Regions from separate parts of the Homo sapiens genome. Here region 2 is linked to region 1. Evidence: fine-mapped expression QTL. A gene starts in region 1. The other region holds a variant in brackets. All regions are shown on one strand. Distances are between the middles of the regions.

The links.
Region 2: its variant is fine-mapped to the expression of ICAM2 in whole blood (TOPMed, PIP above 0.99).

The regions. Positions count from the first base shown.
Region 1 is chr17:64,017,983-64,022,982 of GRCh38, forward strand. It overlaps ICAM2 (intercellular adhesion molecule 2), which reads right to left and starts at 2,651. Exons shown (of 5, transcript NM_001099789.2): 1 at 2,541-2,651. RefSeq lists enhancers at 2,271-2,390, 2,485-2,985, 2,731-2,820, 3,041-3,090.
Region 2 is chr17:64,083,224-64,088,444 of GRCh38, forward strand. The region is part of intron 2 of ERN1 (endoplasmic reticulum to nucleus signaling 1); the gene reads right to left. Among named protein-coding and RNA genes, the nearest start is that of ERN1, 44 kb to the right of the region's middle. The variant A/C (reference allele first, on the strand shown) is at 2,759.

The DNA of each region.
Region 1 (5,000 bases):
CATATCCTTGGGGCAAGACCTCGAAATTGTCAATCATAAAATCAACAATTGGTATCTTTGACTAAGATACAAAGAAACAGGTCGGGTGCGGCTGTGACGCCAGCACTTTGGGAGGCCGAGGCGGGCTGATCACGCGGTCAGAAGATCGAGACCATCCTGGCCAACATGGTGAAACCCCATCGCTACTGAAAATACAAAAAAATTAGCCAGGCATGGTGGCGGGCACCTGTAGTCCCAGCTACTCGGGAGGCTGAGGCAGGAGAATGGCGTGAACCTAGGAGGCGGAGCTTGCAGTGAGCTGAGATCGCGACACTGCATTCCAGCCTGGGTGACAGAGTGAGACTCTATCTCAAAAAAAAAAAAAAAAAAAAAAAAGACACAAAGAAACATTTCAAAGAAAAGGAAACATGTCTAAACAAGTGAAAAGATTATTTAGCTCGAGTAGCCAGGGAAATTAAAATTAAAATTACAATGGGACCGATACTATTTTATATGTATTAGGTTGGCAAAAGTTAAGAAATATGACAAGACCAATTGTTGGAGAGGCCGTAGGTTAATAGGCACCCTTCTAACTGCTGATGAGAGTGTATATTGGTGCTCTCAGAGATAATTAGGCATTATCTTGTAAACGGAATATTCTTATACCCTGTAACTCACAGTTCCATTCTTAGATGTATGCCCTAGAAACGCTGTCACACTAAGAACCAGACATGTCTTTGTGTTTACTTCTCTTTTTTTTTTTTTTTTTTTTTTTTTTGAGACGGGGTCTCGTTGTGTCGCCCAGGCTGGAGTGCAGTGGCGCGATCTTGGCTTACTGCAACCTCCACCTCCCGGGTTCGAGCTATTCTCCTGCCTCAGTCTCCCGAATAGCTGAAACTACAGGCGTACGCCACCACACCCAGCTAATTTTTGTATTTTTAGTAGAGATGGGGTTTCATCTTGTTGGCCAGGACCGTCTCTATCTCTTGACCTCATGATCCTCCTGCCTTGGCCTCCCAAAGTGCTGGGATTACAGGCATGAGCCACTGCTCCCGGCCTTACTTCTCACTATCTGTGTGACCTTGAGCAAATCACTTAATCTTTCTGTGCCTCAATTTCCTCATCTGCAAAAAGGAATCAATAATAGTATCTTCCTCATAGGGTTTTTGTGCAGATTAAACAAATAAAATAAGTAAATATTTTAAAGCATTTAGAACAGTGCCTAGCACACAGTAACGCTATATAACTGTTTCATAAAATAAAAATAAATAGGCATAGCCAGGTGCAGCAGTTCAAGACTGTAGTCCCAACTAATCAGGAGGCTGAGGTGGGAAGATCACTGGATCCCAGGAGTTCGAGGTTGTAGTGTGCTATGATCATGCCTGTGAATAGCCACTGCACTCCAGCCTGGGAAATATAGTGTGACCCCATCTCAGTAAATAAATAAATAAATAAATAAATAGAGATGCATATGTAATAAAGCACTTAAAAATAAGAGAACAATAAACACAAAATTCCAGAGGGTGGCTACCTGTGGGTGGGAGGCAAGTAGCATAAAAGTGGACAAGTGGTGGCCAGGTGTGGTGGCTCACGCCTGTAATCCCAGCATTTTGGGAGGCCGAGGTGGGCGGATCATGAGGTCAAGAGATCGAGACTCTCCTGGCCAACATAGTGAAACCCTGTCGCTACCAAAAACACAAAAATTAGCTGGGCATGGTGGCATGCGCACCTGTAGTCCCAGCTACTTGGGAGGCTGAGACAAGAGAATCGCTTGAACCCAGCAGGCGAAGGTTGTGGTGAGCCAAGATTGTGCCACTGCACTCCAGCCTGGGCGACAAGAATGAAAACTCTGTCTCAAAAAAAAAAAAAAAAAAAAAAAGCAGATAAGTGGTGTTTGCAGTTTGGTGATACTCCATCCTTGTGCTGAGTGGCAGCTTCAGGTGTGTTTGGTATATTACTGTGCAGTATGATGTATATGTATGTTACATAAGCTTTTTATGCGTTACCTAGTAAATTTTACAAAAATAATAAAAGGGAAAAAGGGCCTTTCTACGTGCCTAGAAAGAAGAGGCTTCATGGGAATGTGAGCCATGGGTTAGGAAAGACCCCCTCGAACCGAGGCAGGTAGGAAGTGAGTGACTGAGATTCATTATGAACCCACCACGCCTGCCGGGGAGAACAGGGACTGTCCCTTCCCCTCTGCATCAGCTCAGATGGTCCAGATCACAGCCCACGTGGGCCCCTAAATAAGGAGGCAGCCCCACATTTCTACATCGGCCACCGAGATGGCAGAGCAGAGGAAGGAGAGAGGGGAGACAAATCAGGAAAGGAGCGCCAGGGCAAGTGCGTGAGCTCAGAGACCCAGCAGGGCAGGGCAGGAGCTTCACAGAGTGCAGAATGTCGAGCCACAGGAGCGCTGGGGATTCCCCAACCCCTGCACTTACCAGCGAGAAACTGAGACCCAGAGAGGGGAACGGACTAAAACTCAGACCTCGACACTGCCAAAATCCTTCCCATGCTGCCACGCTTCATTGGAGGGAAAGTGAGAAGCTCAACCTTACCCCTGTGGGCTCCAAGAAGGGTAGCTCTGGGATCCCGGGCAGGAAATTGGTGACAAGGTGACAAGGTGCGCGTGTCACAGCTGCCCAGTTCACGGCTTATTCAGTCTTCTCCCTCCCCCCACTCCCCACCAGAAGTGACGTGCTTCCTGTGCCCCGGTTCCCACCCTAAACTAGCCTCATTTAGCTCCACTCCCATTCCGCTTTTTTTTTTTTTAATTGTGGTAAAACGTACACAACAGAATTTACCATTTCAATTTTTTTTTTTTTTTTAGACTGAGTCTCAGTCACCCAGGCTGGAGTGCAGTGGTGTGATCTCGGCTCACTGCAACCTCTGCCTCCCGAGTTCACGTGATTCTTGTGCCTCAGCCCGCAGAGTAACCGGGACCACAGGCACCTGCCACCACGCCTGGCTAATTTTTGTATTTTTAGTAGAGACAGGGTTTCACCATGTTGGCCAGGCTGGTCTCGAACTCCTGACCTCAAGTGAACTGCCTTCCTCGGCCTCCTAAAGTGCTAGGATTACAGGCAAGAGCCACTGCGTCCAGCCAATTTTTTGTTGTGTTGTTTTTAAGACAGAGTCTTGCTTTTGTCACCTAGGCTGGAGTGCAGTGGCACAATCACAGTTCGTGGCAACCTCTGACCCCTGAGCTCAAGTGACCCTCCCTCCTCAACTTCCCAAGTGACTGGGACTACAAGTGTGCAGCCACCAGGCTTGGCTAATTTCTGTAGTTTTTGTAGAGACAGAGTGTTGCTTATGTTGCCCAGCCTGGTCTCAAACTCTTGAGCTCAAGCAATCCTCCCACCTCAGCCTCCCAAATGCTGGGAATGAGCCACCGTGCTAGGCCCATTTTAATTATGTTTAAGTGTACAGTTTGGGGCACTAAGTACATTCACATTGTTCTGCAACCATCACCACCATCCATCTCTGGAGCTCTCTCTTTCTCTTTTCTTTCTTTTTTTTTTTTTGAGATGGAGTTTCGCTCTGTTGCCCAGGCTGGAGTGCAGTGGTGTGATCTTGGCTCACTGTAACCTCTGCCTCCCAGGTTCAAACGATTCTCTTGCCTCAGTGTTTTTGTTGTTGTTGTTGTTGTTTGTTTGTTTGTTTGTTTTGTAGAGATGGAGCCTCACTCTGTCGCCCAGGCTGGAGTGCTGGAGTGCAGTGGTGTGATCTCGGCTCACTGCAACCTCCGCCTCCCGAGTTCAAGCAATTCTCCTGCCTCAGCCTCCTGAGTAGCTGGGACTACAGGTGCACGCCACCACGCCTGGTTAATTTCTTTTGTATTTTAGCAGAGATGGGGTTTCACCATGTTGCCTAGGCTGGTCTCAAACTCTTGAGCTCAGGCAATCCGCCCGCCTTGGCCTCCCAAAGTGTTGGGATTACAGGCATGAGCCACCGTGCCTGGCCTTGCCTCAGCCTCTTGAGTAGCTGGGATTACAGGCACGTGCCGACTGGCTAATTTTTGTATTTTTAGTAGAGATGGGGTTTCATCATGTCGGCCAGGCTGGTCTCGAACTCCTGACCTCAAATGATCCGCCCACCTCAGCCTCCCAAAGTGCTGGTATTACAGGCATGAACCACCACGCTTGGCCAGAACTGCCTTCCTTTTGAAGGCTGAGCAATATCCTATTGTGCGTGTGTGCCGCATTCTGTTCATGCATTCATATACTGATGGACACCTGTGTTGCTTCCACCTTTGGCTATTGTGAATAGTGCTGCTACAAACAGGGTTGTACAAATACCTGCTCAAGACTCTGCTTTCAGTTCTCTGGGGTATGTACCCAGAAGTGGAAATGCTGGATCATAATGGTAAAATATACACAACAAAATCTACCATCTTAACCTTTTTTCTTTTTTTTTTTTAGTGGTAATTCTGACTGGGCTTGGTGGCTCACACTTGTAAATCCGGCACTTTGGGAGGCTGAGGTGGGAGGATTGCTTGAGTCTAGGACTTCAAGACCAGCCTGGGTGACAAAGTGAGACCCCATCGCTACAAAAAAAAAAAAAAGTAATTTTGTTTAATTTTTGAAGATTTGCCATCCTGTTTTCCTTACTCCTCCCTTTGATGTGCAGTTTCTGTACTCACTGGGGCCTTCTGTGAATGAGGCAGTTCCAGGACAAGCTACCTTCTGGTCCCCCAAGTGAGGCAGGCGAAGATCACAGAGCTGAGGCTTCCTTGGCTGTGACACACCATTCCAAAAAAGCCTCTTATTAGTGACTAAGACCTATCACTTCATCAAATCTTATCAGACCTGCCACCTTGCCTAGCAATTTTACAACAATTACTCTAGAAGAGTGACTTTGTACAAACAAGCAGAAAGTATGAACACTGGGTGCAGAGGTGGGTGGCGGGCAGCCAGCTAGGCTCACCCACGAGCAGAGGATCTTGCTCCCACGGGCCAGCCTCACAGCACATTGAAACTTCTGGCTTAGCAAAGTCACAAATTAGACCATTCAGAGGC
Region 2 (5,221 bases), 65 kb after region 1:
TCTGTACATATGGTTAAATTTTTTCATATTAAAAAAGGTTAAAGAGAAAATTATCTTTGGAAAGTCAGCAAAAATAAAAAGAGCATTATCTGAAAATGTGCACTAAAAGAGTAACATGAAAAAGTGGTTTTGATTTAATAATGAGAACTGATATCAGGTAAGATTCTTGCTTTAAAAAAAAAAGTTTTCAGCCATGTGAAAAGAAACACTGTCCTACCTGTAGGGATGTAAACAAATACTGCTGTAAAATAAGCCACTATCTATATGGGGCCCGATAAGAATAAAAGCCAATGTCACCAAGTTGTTTTACTTTCAGAAAAAAAAAGTTGTGGGGGAGTTACTTCACAAATATAAAAAGTGGCTGTTATGTAAGGTAAAGGTAAGGTTATCTGGTAAAGGTAGAGGGAAAATATAGCTGAAATCAAGGTTTGGTCTCCCAGGATTAACACGGGAAAGAAACAAACCTGCTCACTGATCCCCTGGGAGCAGCCACTGGCCTCAACTCCACTCCCCGGCCCCCATCGTGTGTCCAGCTGAGGCCTGGAATGGCACAAGTTTTACACCTGCAGGAACTGACATCCTGGGTGAGGTCACAAGATGCTCATTGCTAGGCTAATCTAAATCACTTCTTTAAGCTCAAATAACAAAACAGACGTCCACATCTTTCCTTTGTCCAAGTTCATAAGGGTAAAGTTTTAAACATTTCTGTCCCCAAAAGCAGTGAATTTTTGTCCCCACTCCCTCCTCCACACAGGGAGGAACATTGCCAGCTTCTCCCTTCAGCCTTTCTTCTCACTCAGAGAGCACATGCCTCTCTATAACTTCCACCCTAACCACAGTGGGGTTCTAGGCTCCCCTCTCCCGGGTCCTTTCTCTGGATCAACTGGACACGCCCACTACTTCCCACCAACGCCTCAGCCTCTGCTTGCCCAAGTCACGCCCTCTGTCTTTTGCCTGAGACTGGCTTCTACTCCTGACTACCGTATTTTATTAACAGTACCACCATTCTCCTAGAAGAAAGCCATGACTCAAACGACACTGTTGATGTCTATTTCTCCCTAACACATGCTATCAGTTGCCAAACTCTGTGGTCTGTTTCGATGCCAACCATAATTCTGTGTCCTGTTCCCATTCCCTTCAACACCATAGGAACCCTTTGTCTCTCAAGCCTTCCCTCCTCTCTTAATCTGTGTGGACTTTGGAATCAGACAAACCAAGGCATAAATCCTGGCTCTGCCAATCACCAGCTGAGTGACCTTGGCAAAGTTACTTAAGCTCGTGGAGCCTCAATTTCCTCATCAGTAAGGAAAAAAAAAATAGAGATAACATCAACCTCATGGGGCATCTCTATGTGGATTAAATGTTTGTCAAGACTATAAGTCAATGCCTTGACACTGAGAAGAGTGATCCTTTTAAAGGCATAAATCAGATTAAGCTTCTCTGTGACTCAAAATCCTTTGGTGGTTCCCCATCTCACTCAGTGAAGGCCAGTGTTTACACAGTGGTTCATAAATCCCAAGCAGTCCCTCCCTTTCAACCTGTCACCCTTTAACAATCTCCCACTATTTCCCACACACTCCATTCCAGCCATGCCGGCCTCCAAGTATTCAACAAGCACTGCCAGGCCTGCCCATGCCTCAGGACCTTTGCACTGGCTGTTCCTCTGCCTAGGTCTTTGATCAACTGTTGCCACCTCAGAGCGGTCTTCCATGATCACCTCCTACTGCCCAGGATTTCCAACCCTTCTTCCCTGCTTAATTTTTCTCCATGTCACTTACCACCTCTGTAGTTCTGTATATTTTATTGCTTACTTAATGCCCAACTCTGGCCACGGAGGGTTGGGATTTATTTTTTGTTGTCTGCATCTTCCCAAGGATCTAAAACAATACCTGACACACAGGTGGTAACCAACGTATTTGCTGAATGGAGTAATTAAGTGTCATTTCCTGTCTTAGTCTGTTTGTGTTCCTATAAAGGAATACCTGAGGCTGGGTAATTTATAAAGAAAAGAGGTTTATTTGGCTCACGTTTCTGCAGGCTGTACAAGAAGCATGGCATTAGCATTTGCCTCTGATGAGGGCTTCTGGCTGCTTCCACTAGTGGCAGAAGGCAAAGGGGAACCGGAGTGTACAGAGCTCACAGGGCGAGAGAAGCAGCGAGAGGGGAGAAGGTGCCAGGCTCTTTTTAAGAACCATCTCTCACAGGAATTAATAGGGTGAGGATTCACTCACTACAATGAGGACAGCGCCAAGCCATTCATGAGGGATCCACCCCCAAGACCCAAACACTTCCCATTAGGCTCCACCTCCATCACTGGGAATCAAATTTCAACATGAGGTTTGGAGGGTCAAATATTCAAACTAGCGCAGTTTCTTTCCTACTTCCACTCTTGGCCAGCCTGGAAATCCATTGTTGATCACTTTTAATAATCCAGCAGATAAGCTCTACTCACCCTGAACCCAGGATCTGCATAGCAGTCCCTGTTCCTCCACCCAGCCTTCTGAGCACAGCTGTAGAAAACACTGCGATCATTAGTGGAGATACCATGATACGTGGTATCTCCATGGTGTGGCCAGCTAGGCCCCTGCCACTAGGAGATCCTGGCTGGCTTCTGTTCTCACCCCTGTAGCTGATATTTCAAACTACTCCTTGCCTCAAGGTCCCTGTCTCTCCACAAATGACTCTGCCTTCTGTGTCATAGGGGATATTAAGGGAGACTGAGTGAGCTTGCTGAAACTTCCTACCCTTTGTCTTCTAC[A/C]TTTGCCCAGCTCCACCCTTCCCTTCACATCTCTATAAAGGGACAATGCTTTTGTCTTCACACTCATAGATTTTTCACACTCACATCTAGATCCTGTCTCCAAGGATCTTCAACTCCTCCTTTGCCTATAAACACAAAAACCTCTTGGCTCTGCCTGCTCTTCTGCACACTCTCCTTTTCCTCCAAAGTGCAACCATTTTAAGTTTACAGTTCAATCAATCTTGAAAAACACACACCCATGTAACTATCTTCACCATCAAGATACAGAACATTTCCATCACCCTAAAACATTTTTTCACATCCCTTTGGATTCAGTATTTCCAAATCTTGCTCCAGATAAGTACCAGTTCATTTTGTTTGTTCTAAAATTTCACAAATGACCACGTCATAGATACTCATTTGTGCCTGGCCTCTTTATCTCACATAATGTCTTGGAAATTCATCCATATTGTTGTATGTATCATAGTTCGCTCTTTTTTATTACCAAATAGTATTCTACTATAAGAATTTACCACAATCTGTTTACCTATTTACCTGCTGAGGGACATTTGAGTTGTTTTTATTTTCTTGGCTGGTGTGAATAAAGCTTCTGTGAACATTTGTGTACGAGTGTTTATTTGGACCTATTTTCATTTCTTTTTTTTTCTTTTCTTTCCTTTTTTTTTTTTTTTTTTTTTTTTTTTGAGATGGAGTCTCGCTCTGTCGCCCAGGCTGGAGTGCAGTGGCACAATCTCAGCAACCTGCAACCTCCACCTCCTGAGTTCAAGTGACTCTCCTGCCTCAGCCTACCGAGTAGCTGGGACTACAGGCGTGTGCCACCACACCCAGCTAATTTTTGTATTTGTAGTAGAGATGGGGTTTCACCTATTGGTCAGGCTGGTCTTGAATTCCTGACCTCGTGATTCACCCGCCGTGGCCTCCCAAAGTGCTGGGATTATAGGTGTGTGCCCAGCCTATTTTCATTTCTTAAAACAAGGAGGGGGACTGGCTGCATCATATTGTTTACCTCTGACAAAAAATTGACAAACAGTTTGCAAAACTGGTAGTACTGTTTTATATTTCCACCAGCAATGTATTAGAGATTCCTATGGAATTTTTAGAATGTTGATTCCTAGGTTCTTCCCCCAGGAAGCTGGCTTTGTAGGTAGAGACAAGGAATTTGCCTTTATAACCCAAGCTGGGTGATTGAGCCATGTGGGGAAACTACACTGCTCCGAATCCTCTGTTCCACCTTCCTGCCTTCTTACCTTCCTCCACTCACTGCCCTCCGGCCCCTACCCTCAGAATAAGATCAGAACTGCCACTGTCAAGTTCCCGTGATCAAAACCAACACTTGCAAATCCTCCGCATGGCATCTGAGGATGTTCTCCCTTGGACTCCTGACCCAGTCCCACTTGCAACTGCTATGGGTGTCTCAGCCCAAGGCCATACCCCCAGGACCTGCTCCTCAGTTCACATTCCCCAGATTGGCTAGTGGGTCCCACTTCCACCCAGTCACACAACCTAGAAACTCAGGAAGTCCCCAAACCAGTCCCTTTTAAGTGTACCTCTAGCAGTGACTGTAAATGTTTTGGGTTGGCCCTTTTGAAAAGTATTTAAGGGAGAGGGACAGGGATTACCCCGCATTGATAATTATTGAAGCTGGGTGCTGGGTACATGGTTTCATGATACTACTCTTCTTACTTTGGGGTATGTATAAAGTTTTTATAAAATGAAAAGTTAAAAAAAAAGCTAAAAACAGAAGCTATTTAAGGCAAACATCTGCAATAGGTTGGAGAGAATGGCCTGTTCCTCCTGCTCTCACCTGTGGCATAATTCTGAAGAGCCTGCTCTTCCAGTTGCACAGGGCACAGAGAGACTGAAGGGAAACCCAAGTTAAGAGCATGAAGGACCCTGTCAGGACCATCCCAGGCTTCCCTAAATGCAGGGCTGGCAAAATTCGTGAGGGCCTGGGGAAAACATGGGGTGATAAGTCAGCTGAACAGAAAAATGTCTTTGATGCAATCAACCAAAATTTAAATAATTGTTTCAAACCAGACTTCGAGATTGACGGCCTCTCTCTGGAGGTAGCTCTGGGCAGACTTCCTTCCATGTAGGAAGAAGTAAGATCCCTTTGATTACAGAAGCCACAAGAACAGGTTGCTCACTTAACTGGAGCTCAAGGAGCCTTGCAAGATCCTTCTCTTATCTTTCCCAGATGAGCACGGATATTTCTGGAACACCCTGCTTTTGCTTTTCCGTTGGACTCTAGATGACCTCTGGCTTTACTGCCCTCCTCCACCTTGTTCTTTCTGACCCCATCTGACCACCCTTCTGACCCCCATAACGCAGCAATGGAAATCAGCTCTCTCTTCTGCACAACTAAGATATTACCACACAGTTAGAAAGTCCCCAAACCAGTCCCTTCTAAGTGTAACCCTAGCAGTGATTTTAAATGTTCTGGGTTGGTATTCAAAATACCTT